Linked DNA regions of Homo sapiens. The protein of the gene in region 1 purifies or fractionates together with the protein of each later gene. This does not show direct contact. Each region holds a gene or a part of one and is shown in the gene's direction. Other genes may lie near its edges.

Region 1 (3,655 bases):
ATGTAAGTATCTAATAGGCAACCCAAATTTTGAAAGTCTAAAACTCAGCTACTTTTCTACTCCCAACCCCACCCACACCCAGCAAGAATCTTGTTTCTCTCCAGTCCTCCCCCAGCTCAGAGCATTTCCTTCCTTCATTCTAGTTTCTCACACCAAAAACTTAGAAGTTATCCTGGAATTCTGTCTTTCTCTCACATCACAGCCACACTGGAAGCTTCTACTATTAATTCTGTCATTGAAATACATTCAGAATCTGATTGCATCTCACCACACACACTGTTACCACCCTGATAGAAATCATGATCATCTTTCTCTTGGATGATTTCAGTTGGCTTCATACTCATCTCCCTGTTCCCAGCCTGGCACCCTTTCAAACTTCAACACAGTAAAGGAAGTCAAATCACTTCATCTTTCTGCTCAAATCTTCCAATGACTTACTATGTTAGTCACAGTAAAAGCCTAATTAGATGTACTTAACCTTTAGGTAGTATAATACATTGATATAATTCTCATCTCTTAAATATATCAAAGAGAGAAAAATCTCTGAAAAGCTAAAATAGTTTTTAAAATTAAGGAAAACACAGCTCTAAAATTTAATTACAGCTTGATAAAAAATCAGATGCAATTTATACCATATTTCTAGATAGATCACCTCTGTAATCACATCCTAAAGGCTATGCTTGCCTCTTCAGAGCAGTTTTCATATGATTGGAAGAATAAAATTTTGGAAATCCCTAATATATTTGTTTGCATTTTTTTATGATTCAATCTTTCATTTAGCAAACATTTTATATCTCCTAGGACATAGAAAAGGGAAGACTTATAGATTCTATCCATTGAAGTTACTAGCAGTTCAAATACTTTTTTATTTCATGTACAGGGATGACTAAGATAAATCCAACCTATTCCAACTAGAGCTTGATATGATCACTAACTTGACTATTCCAGATTCTTCCTGTGGTATCACAAATTAGAATAAATGGGCCTATCAGTCTTAATTTAGCCACAACTACCTTAGTCAACTTGCAGAACTTGTTATTTGTCTGAAAACTTACAGAGTCATCTTTTCTATAATGCTGTCCCATACAATATGTGCTGAAATTATTTCTTCCATTCCTGAACATCCATAACATAGGGTTTATTTGCACTCTGGGTAACATAAATACACATTATTTTAATTCATTCCTAATTTTTTTTCCAGTGCTAACTCTTATTTGGATTATAAACTTCCCAAGGGCATTTTCTTTCTTGGCATGCATGCATATTATAGCAAGATGAAGTTTCTATTTCTGCGCAAAAAATTGTAGCCAGGAGATATTTAGAATGTTGAAATTGACATATTCTTTTTGTCAAAACAACAAATCAGTAAAAACAGCTTTTCTTAAGTTATTTGGAAATGATCACAAACTTTTTCTTTTTTTTTTTTTTTAATTACTTTTAGCAAGCTCTATTGCCAAGATTGGCTCAGATCCTTTAAAACTGGTACGTGATGCTATGGAGGAAACCACGGACTGGATCTATGGCTTCTTTTCTTTGTTATCTGACATCATCTCATCTGAAGATGAAGAAGATGATGATGGTGACGAAGATACTGATAAAGGTACAAAGAACATAGAGATATATCTAACTGCTAGGAGCAACATTAAATATGTATTATAGTGGCTTGCCTCAGTTTAAATTCAAATGAGCACTTGGGTCAAGCTAAACCAAAATGAATACACTTCTGACTGCTAAAAGCATATCAACAGGCTGCCAAACACAGTAAATTGTTCTTTATTTAATTTTCATCTTATAGCTTATCTACCATTATGGCAAAGATGTCAAAATTAAATGTTAATATTAATGTAGCATTACAGCAAAGGGAGTCTCATTATGCTCTGCTATAAAACCACAATACAAACTCACATTTATATGCTTCTTTGGAAAAAATAGTTATTTTTCAAGTTTATCTCTAGGAAGATTAAAATAAAAACAGTAAAACTAAAAATACATATAAGTGTTTTATACACATATGTCATATTTATAGTCAAATAGCAGAAAGCAATCTTACTAAAAGTACAATCAAAAGAGTAAATTTATTGGACCAAATGGTGGTGTAGAATAGAAGGACACATTCTAAATGTCCTAACAATTATGCAACTAACCTATGTGCTCTCTCATATATATTAATGAATAAAAGGAAATAGCCATCTCAAACCACATAAAAGCTGCCATTGAATGAGTATGAAAAGAACAAAGCACTGTGATTCCATCTATTAGATAACACTTTTTAGGGTCAGTCTTAGTCATCAGAAATCATGTATTCAGCCTTGACTACCAGGAAAGCTTTTATTATTAGAGTATTTTTATAACTTTTCCTGAAATTATATTTGTTTTGGCCCCAGTAAGAGTTCAACATGAACAATAGAGAGTTGAAATTAATATGATATATAACCTATAATGTATAATTTGGATCACTGCCACAATTTTATTGAATTCATAAAAATGAAACAATCTTATATAAATGTATATAAACAAACTTTATACTTAAAAACTGGAATTTGGGAAGCAAAGTAATGTAAAGACTATGATTGTTAAAACTAATAGATTTTTTTAAATAAACAAAAGGGGAAAATAATGATGTCATATTATTCTATGCTAAAATATTTTCTAACTTTGTTTTTCTTTTAATCTTGGTCTAGGAGAAATAGATGAGCCTCCCTTGAGAAAAAAAGGTTAGTTGTTTTCACCTTTGATAATAATTATTTTTCTCTTATGGTAATATTGGTTTTCAGCATGGTTCAAATATATTTTACTTATTTTAATATAAAGGTTTTGTTTAATAATTAGGTCAAGATTTATAGTCAGAAAAAAAATACTCAATTTCTTTTCCAATGAAGGTGATCTCACTACTTTTCTGTTGATTATTTTTTAAATGCCTTATTCAGTAGATTTGTATGGATTCATTTATACACAGACCAATATGAGCTGGAATTTGAGGAATGAGGGGAGAATTCTGTAGCCTTAGAAATGGCCCAGAAAATGACACCCATGATTTATTCTCACCATGGTCAGATTTATTGATTTTAAATGTTTATTCTTATTCTTTTCCTTTTATTTTTTTTGCCATCATTATTTTGCATGTTAGGTGATGACTATGGGCCAGGACAACAAGACGGTGAGGGACATAACAGCCTAGGAGGCAAAGGCATATCCAGTTGGTATGTGTGATGTGTCACTGTCATGGAGTGGAGTTACCTGGATGTGCCTGGATGTGCTGTAGAGGAATTACTTGCAGGAATAGATAAGGTGACTGAGTGAAGTGGTCACAACCTGAATGATAAGAACGATAAACCTAGGACAAAGGAGGACAGCAATGGGGCAGGAATTTCAGAAGACAGAGATTTTGACAGGAAGGGGTAGGAACTGCATCTGGAAGGGGCACTGGGGAGCAGGTAGTACCATCTTGAGGTACATTTGTTGTGAGAAAACAGCCAACATTCAAGCCAGACTTAAAACAATTGCAGTGTTTTAGTTACTGCTACACATGGGCAGGCTGTTGAGGGTTTACCCAGGAAGATAACCCTGGCTTCTGTTGCTCTCTCCTAATACCTACTGTGGATTCAAACAATGGGATCCAAACTTACAGTTTCAGCCTTCCCTGAGAAAATGATGA
Region 2 (3,655 bases), on another chromosome or scaffold:
GTGGATGGATCACTTGAGGTCAGGAGTTTGAGACCAGACTGGCCAACATGGCAAAACCCTGTCTTTATTAAAAATGTAAAAAAATTAGCCGGGCATGGTGGTGGGTGCCTGTAACCCCAGCTGCTCGGGAGGCTGAGGCAAGAGAATCGCTTGAACCTGGGAGGTGGAGGTTGCAGTGAACCGAGACCGAGCCACTGCACTCCAGCCTGGGAGACAGAGCAAGACTCTGTCTCAAGAAAAAAAAAAAAATTGCTCTTTAGTTGGTGGAAGTGCTGCTGGCTTGTGTTTAGGAGTCACATTGAAAAATACATAGCTTTAAAAGGCCATATCCCCATACGTGCAACAGCATAGATGAACCTTGACTTTGTGCTAAGTGAAATAAGCTAAACACAAAGGACAAATATTGTATGATTCCACTTAATGGTGTACCTGGAGTAGTGAAATTCATAGAATGGGGAGGTATTTGATGGGTACGGAATTTCAGTTTGAGAGGATAAACAAGTTCTGGAGAACAGTTAGTGGTGATGGCTCCACAACGGTGTGAATGTACCTAGCCACTAAGCTATACCCTCACAAATGGTCAAAATGGTAAATTTTATATTACATGTATTTTGCCAGCCTAGGTGACCAGTGAGACTCTGTCTTGAAACAAACAAACAAACATTGTAAATGATGGTAACTTTATGGTGATAAGTAGATTATGTGTAGATTTCCAGGGAGAACAGTCATTTGGATGTATAAATTTTTTTAAAAAATCAAGCTCCTCTTAAAAGGAGCTAATTTTTGCTTGTTAGATATAAGGGAATGACCTACTTCCTCATTTTGTAGTCAATGAAGGAGAATGTGAGGTCCCAAAGAAATGAAGGAAATTATCTAAGTTTACATGCTGAGGCAGGCCCGAACCTGGCACCAGAACCTCACCCCGCTGACTAACCAGAAAAGGTGCTTGTATGCCTTTCCCCCATACAAATGTTTACCAGGTGACAGCATTCTGGTACCACCTTCATAATTTTTGCCATCCGCAAGTATCATTATTACTGTCACTTACATTTTATTTATTTATTTATTTATTTTGAAATGGAGTCTCCCTCTGTCGCCCAGGCTGGAGTGCAGTGGCACAATCTTGGCTCACTGCAAGCTCCGCCTCCTGGGTTCACACCATTCTCCTGCCTCAGCCTCCTGAGTAGCTGGGAATACAGGCGCCCACCACCACACCAGGCTAATTTTTTGTATTTTTTAGTAGAGATGGGGTTTCACCGTGTTAGGCAGGATGGTCTCGATCTCCTGACCTCATGATCCGCCCGCCTCGGCCTCCCAAATTGCTGGGATTACAGGCGTGAGTCACCGTGCCCAGCCTTGTCACTTACATTTTCTTTATGTCAACTTATTTCATGTAAAATACATTTATTTAAAACAATGTTATTTAAAAATGAAACTTGCTATCATATTTTAGATGGAAAACCTGTAGTATAAACTATCAGAAAATACAATTAAGACAATACTGTTTTAGTTAGATGTTTGTTTTGAAGCTGAAGCCTGTTCTATTTTTGTTCAAAGGGGAGATTAGTAATTTTTAGGTATTAAAGATACACTCAACCAAAGGGACAGAATGGGAAAGGCTGAAAGGGGAATGAATAACGTTCTCATCGTTCAAGTCATTGCCGGTGCCACACCCAGAGAAAAACAAGCACCACACCAGACAGCCTCTCAGCAAGCCGAGTAGGTGGAATTTTTATTTTGCAGAAAAGTAGTGTACGAGTTAACATAGAAGTGGTTCACTGTGGGAGTGGTGAGGGGTTTCAGAGAGTCACTATTGGTAAACATTCTTTTTTTTTTTTTTTTTTTGAGACAGAGTCTTGCTCTATTGCCCAGGCTGGAGTGCAATGGCGCAATCTCGGCTCATTGCCACTTCCACCTCCTGGGTTCAAGCATTTCTCTACCTCTGCCTCCCAAGTAGCTGAGATTACAGGTGCCTGCCACCACGCCCGGCTAATTTTTGTATCGTTAGTAGAGATGGGGTTTCACCAGGTTGGCCAGGGTGGTCTTGAACTCCTGACCTTGTGATCCACCTGCCTTGGCCTCCCAAAGTGCTGGGATTACAGGCATGAGCCACCAGGCCCTGCCATAGGAAGCTTATTCGAAGCAGAGGGAATGGCCTTTACAAATGTGTGGAAACAGTAATAAGCATTTGAAACTTATCTATCTTTTCTAGAAGAAAAGAAGAAATTGATCAGGGATTTTGATGAAAAGCAACAGGAAGCAAATGAAACGGTGAGAACAAGGAACAAATTTTGTTTCTTCTACCTGGTGTTGGTCTTTTCCAGAAGTAATGCTATGAGCTGATCACAAATTAACTGTTCCTGTCCATTGATCTTGATTTTGACTATTTCTTACTAAATGAAGCCAGTTGATGGGGATGGTTGTTGAGGGGGTTTGGCAAACAAATGGGTGAAGCCTGAAGATGCTCCTGAAATGTGACTCTTTGGTAATATATTGCTGATGTGAGTAGTAAGGGCATTCTCATACTTTTACCCAAGCAGTCTTTTAAAATCTGTTGTTTTTTTTTTTGTTGTTGTTGTTGTTGTTTGTTTTGAGACAGAGTCTCGCTCTGTTGCCCAAGCTGGAGTGCAGTGGCACAGTCTCGGCTCACTGCAAGCTCCACCTCCCGGGTTCACACCATTCTCCTGCCTCAGCCTCCCAAGTAGCTGGGAATACAGGTGGGCGCCACCACACCTGGCTGTTTTTTTGTATTTTCAGTAGAGATGGGGTTTCACCGTGTTAGCCAGGATGGTCTCGATCTCCTGACCTCATGATCTGCCCGCCTCGGCCTCCCAAAGTACAGGGATTACAAGGCATGAGCCACCGTGCCTGGCCTAAAATCTGTTTTTAAGAGCTGGCCATTAAGATAGGTTACTGGTCAGTGCGGTGGCTCACGCTTGCAATCCCAACACTTTGAGATGCCAAGGTGGGAGGATCACTTGAGGCCAGAAGTTCAAGACCAGCCTGGGCGACATAGGGAGACCCCCCATCTCTACCAAACAAAAAAAAATTACCGAGGTTTGGTGGTGCATGCCTCTGGACCCAGCTACTCAGGAGGCTGAGGTGGGAGATCACTTCAGCCTGGGAGGTCAAGCATGTGGTTAGCCACAGTTGCACCACTGCACTCCAGTCTGGGTGACAGAGTGAGACCTGCCTCAAAAAAAAAAAAAAAAAAAAAAGGTTACTGTTCTTTGTTAAACCTACTGTCACAGAAAATGTAGTTTAGAGGTAATTCTAACCATGTCCCTTTCTGTCTTAAGAGACAACATAGGAGCTGGAGTTGGTACCTCAGGCAAGACATGCATGAGTCTCAGTTGGTACCCAAAGTTTGTCAGAAGTTGGTTCCGTTTACTGAACAGTTTAACAACTGCTTCTCTTCACCTGTGGCTTTTCTTTAAAAAAAAAAAACTTTTTTTTTTTTTTTTTTTTTGCTCTAGCCCTATAGAAGCAAGAGTCCTTTGACTCCATCTCATCATACTCTAGCTTCAGCAAACTCATTAAGATTGGGGCCAAAATTCTGGTCGCTGCTAGTACTCCGCAGAAATAGTTGGCCCTGTATTTGCTACCCGAGAGCAGATGGAGAAAAAATTCTCTTTTGGCCAGCGAACTTCCTTCT
Region 3 (3,655 bases), on another chromosome or scaffold:
AAGATGATGCTTTCTTTTCTGTTTCCAGGGCTTTCTAAATCTTTTACGACCAGTTTACTTTTGGGCATGACTCTGGCATCCTTTGATACTTTCTCTGGAATTCTCTTAAACTAAGAACTTACTTTTTTACGTGGCTTTTCTCATTAGTTGTAGATAAGCGAATCTCAGAAAAGAGAACGATTTCTTTTCCCTGTTCAGGAGGGCAAGAGAAATTTCTACATTAGCTATCTGCACAAACTGGCCCCTTAACCTAGATCATAGTGCCGAGCTCATTTTTGGACAGAGTACAGAGCATTGTGTTTTCGTAGCAGAGATAAAGGACAGTTGAAAGACTGGGATTCTCGGTCCAGCTCTGTCACAGTCCTCCTGTGAGCCCTAGGCAGATTATTTAACTTCTTAGTTCTGTTTCTCTATCTGATAAATGAGCTTCAGAATACCTGTTTTACTTGCCCACTGGGGTTGTCGTGAGAATAAAATAGGACAATAGACATGAAAAGACTGTGGCAAGTTAAAATGGTTATAGAAATATGTGTTATGTTATTACACTTCTACAGGTTTGTTGATGGGGCTCTTGTGGGTTACCGGATGATTATGTTCAAGGCTTGATACTCTGCTGCTGTCTTGCTGGCTGTCTGTCTCTACATAACTTGTAGCAGCAGTTCTAGTATAGCCTCTAGTTCTTCCCTTTTTCGACTTCTGATACCTGTATTCGCTGTTATCTGGCTATCACCATGACTATGGGCTTGTTTCTGAGTTATTTGAATAGGATGCATTTGTTTCAGCAGTGGTTCTCAAATTTGGCTATCCATTGGAATCAATGCCTGGGTCTCATCCCCAGAGATTCTGATCTAATTGGAATAGGGTGCAGCTTGGCCATTGGGATTTTTTAAAACTCCGTAGGTGAATCCAGTGTGTGGCAGAATTTCAGAACCACAATTAGACATGGTCCTGAGCAAAACAGTATAGCATTGTGCTGTAGGAGGCCAGGAATCAGTGACAGACACCTCTTGGCTCACTGGGAACTTCTGTGACTCTGCCCTCTTCCCAGGGGCATAATACCTACCTCCTGGCAGCTTCCTGCCCCACTGAATTTCACTCTTTCTCTGAAAGCTATTTTTTTGAAACAGGGTCTCATCACTCTGTCGCCTAGGCTGGAGTGCAGTGGCACTATCACAGCTCACTGCAGCCTGGACCTCCTGGGCTCAAATGATCCTCCACCAAAGCCTCTCAAAATGCTTTGATTACTGGCGTGAACTACTGTGCCTGGCCTTTCTCTGAAATCTTTTTTTTTTTTTTTGAGATGGAGTCTCGCTCTGTCGCCCAGGCTGGAGTGTAGTGGCATGATCTCAGCTCACTGCAAGCTCTGCCTCCTGGGTTCACGCCATTCTCCTGCCTCAGCCTCCTGAGTAGCTAGGACTCCAGGCGCCCACCACCACACCGGCTAATTTTTTGTATTTTTTAGTAGAGACGGGGTTTCACCGTGTTAGCCAGGATGGTCTCGATCTCCTGACCTTGTGATCTGCCCACCTCAGCCTCCCAAAGTGCTGGGATTACAGGCGTGAGCCACCGCGCTGGGCCGTTTCTCTGAAATCGTAATGAAACAGCAGAGAGATAAGAATCCAGAGTGACAAGACAGAGACTGGCTCAATAGAGTAGGAGATTTCAGGCCCCTTGCTCAATGCAGGAGTACCCAATCCCCTTTCATTTTGACTGTGTACTTCTAATATGAACACTGTTGGAAAATATCCCAGAAATAAAGAATGAAAACTGAAAATGATCTAGCAATAGTTGCCCAGAACAGTCTATTTGGAGAGCCTTTGGCTGAACCCAGCTGGTCTGTCTGTTCTTCCTTCACTTCTTTCTTCACAGTAGACTTTTAACCAGAAGCTTCCCTAAATCAACTACCCACTCTGGTTTTTTCTTGAAACCGTTCAACTATTTAAAACACTTAACCATCCACTTGCATCCATCTTCAAGTGCATTTAAGCTTCTTGGCCATGGACGGGAGGGTTTGGGGACTGTAACTTGCTCTTCTTGTGAGAATTCTGGCTTACCCCTCAGCTTGGCAGAGGGCCAGGTCTAGCTAATTAGAGTTGTTTGTAGTATCTGCTAATTATTCCTGGAAACGTTTGCATAACAGCTTAGCTTTTCTTTTTCTACTGTAATAAATTAGGCTTTGACCTTTCTTTAAATCCAGCTTTTCAGAGTCTTTCTGTCTGAGGGGTGATCTTGAGTTGTAAATGAGTATGAATTCAGCCATCTGTACTCTAAAAGCCGAGCTACTTTGCTGGGTGGGTGTAGGATCACAGGAGTGGAGTTTGGTACACTCTTGTCTTTTCCAACTTTGGAGTTCTGTCCTGTTTCTGTTGGGAAATGTTGAAGATAATCGGGAGGTTTATTCATTTTCATATTAAATCTCTAAACAGTTGAATGGTTCAATCCGTTTAATTTTATGACATGAACACATAGCAAGTCTTAGATTTAAGTTTTAACCCTTAGTCTAGTGTTACCTGCATTTGTGTTTTCCAAGTCTGTTGATTGCTGATGTGGGCTTGAGGGGTTTTGCATTTCATGCTCCTCATTGATTCTAATGTCTTTCTCACTTTAGCCATGTTTCCTGAGAGACTGGGAGTTGCAGGTGCACTTCAAAATCCATGGACAAGGAAAGAAGAATCTGCATGGGGATGGCTTGGCAATCTGGTACACAAAGGATCGGATGCAGCCAGGTATTGGGAGCCTGTGTTACTCTTGTGTGGGTGTGACAGCCTGATTTTTCATGTGCCCTCTTTTTGAAAAGGTTCCTTCCCCACAGTGCCAGCTGTTTTCCCTCTCCCTTAATGTATGTGGATGAACACTGGCCCTTCTAGTCTCTAGAACGGGTCTGAGTCCTCATAAGCAGCTGAATTTGACTCATCCTGAGGCAGTTGCTTGCTTGTTACTTCTTTCTGAGTTTCCTTGTGAAACTACCTGGCCTGTTGGCTGGATGAAAGCACTGGCTCTCCTGAACGCTGACGATTGGGTGAGCTGATTTCTTCTGAACATTTACAGTGAATGATCTCAGCACTGCTGAGTCAAGAGAAGAGTTATCTATTTTCCTTGTGTTAGAGCTATTATTGCTCCATGTAGATGGCAGGCTCAACCTGATTTGACCTGATCTCTTTTGCAACAAGAAGGAGAACTAGGGAATTCAGTTCTCTCTTGGGGGCATAGTCTTTACCAATTGTTTGTAAAGCAGAATTCTGTAGGGGCACCTTAGCAACCAGTTTGGATCAGGAAGCTGCCTGAGTGCTAAATAAGGTTGCAGTGGCCTTCTCTCTTTCCCTTGCCTCCAACAACAAACAATTACAGATATTTACTGGGCACTTGTTACAGGCCATGCACTTTGCTGGGTACTTTTAAACATGTGTTTTCTCATCTTGAGAGAGGCTTGGGAGTCATTTGAATTTTACTTTTTCCTCCATCATAGTGATATATTATTCCTTTATCAACTCTTAGCTTTATTTCATTGTTCATCATCTGTTCTCTCTCTCTAGGGCCTGTGTTTGGAAACATGGACAAATTTGTGGGGCTGGGAGTATTTGTAGACACCTACCCCAATGAGGAGAAGCAGCAAGAGGTAATGGCAAGTGTCAGAGCCTAGGTCAGCTACACTGAC

Evidence for each region.
Region 2: the proteins of TRDN (region 1) and VTI1B purify together in Homo sapiens (co-immunoprecipitation; 3 studies listed by BioGRID and IntAct, with this or other methods). This does not show direct contact.
Region 3: the proteins of TRDN (region 1) and LMAN2L purify together in Homo sapiens (co-immunoprecipitation; 3 studies listed by BioGRID and IntAct, with this or other methods). This does not show direct contact.

The regions. Positions count from the first base shown.
Region 1 is NC_000006.12:123,546,399-123,550,053, reverse strand, and holds part of TRDN (triadin), read left to right. Parts: intron 1-1,441; coding exon 1,442-1,600; intron 1,601-2,681; coding exon 2,682-2,714; intron 2,715-3,655. UniProt on the Homo sapiens protein: Contributes to the regulation of lumenal Ca2+ release via the sarcoplasmic reticulum calcium release channels RYR1 and RYR2, a key step in triggering skeletal and heart muscle contraction.
Region 2 is NC_000014.9:67,661,093-67,664,747, reverse strand, and holds part of VTI1B (vesicle transport through interaction with t-SNAREs homolog 1B), read left to right. Parts: intron 1-2,212; coding exon 2,213-2,271; intron 2,272-3,655. UniProt on the Homo sapiens protein: V-SNARE that mediates vesicle transport pathways through interactions with t-SNAREs on the target membrane. These interactions are proposed to mediate aspects of the specificity of vesicle trafficking and to promote fusion of the lipid bilayers.
Region 3 is NC_000002.12:96,733,480-96,737,134, reverse strand, and holds part of LMAN2L (VIP36-like protein isoform 2 precursor), read left to right. Parts: intron 1-2,608; coding exon 2,609-2,726; intron 2,727-3,533; coding exon 3,534-3,616; intron 3,617-3,655. UniProt on the Homo sapiens protein: May be involved in the regulation of export from the endoplasmic reticulum of a subset of glycoproteins. May function as a regulator of ERGIC-53.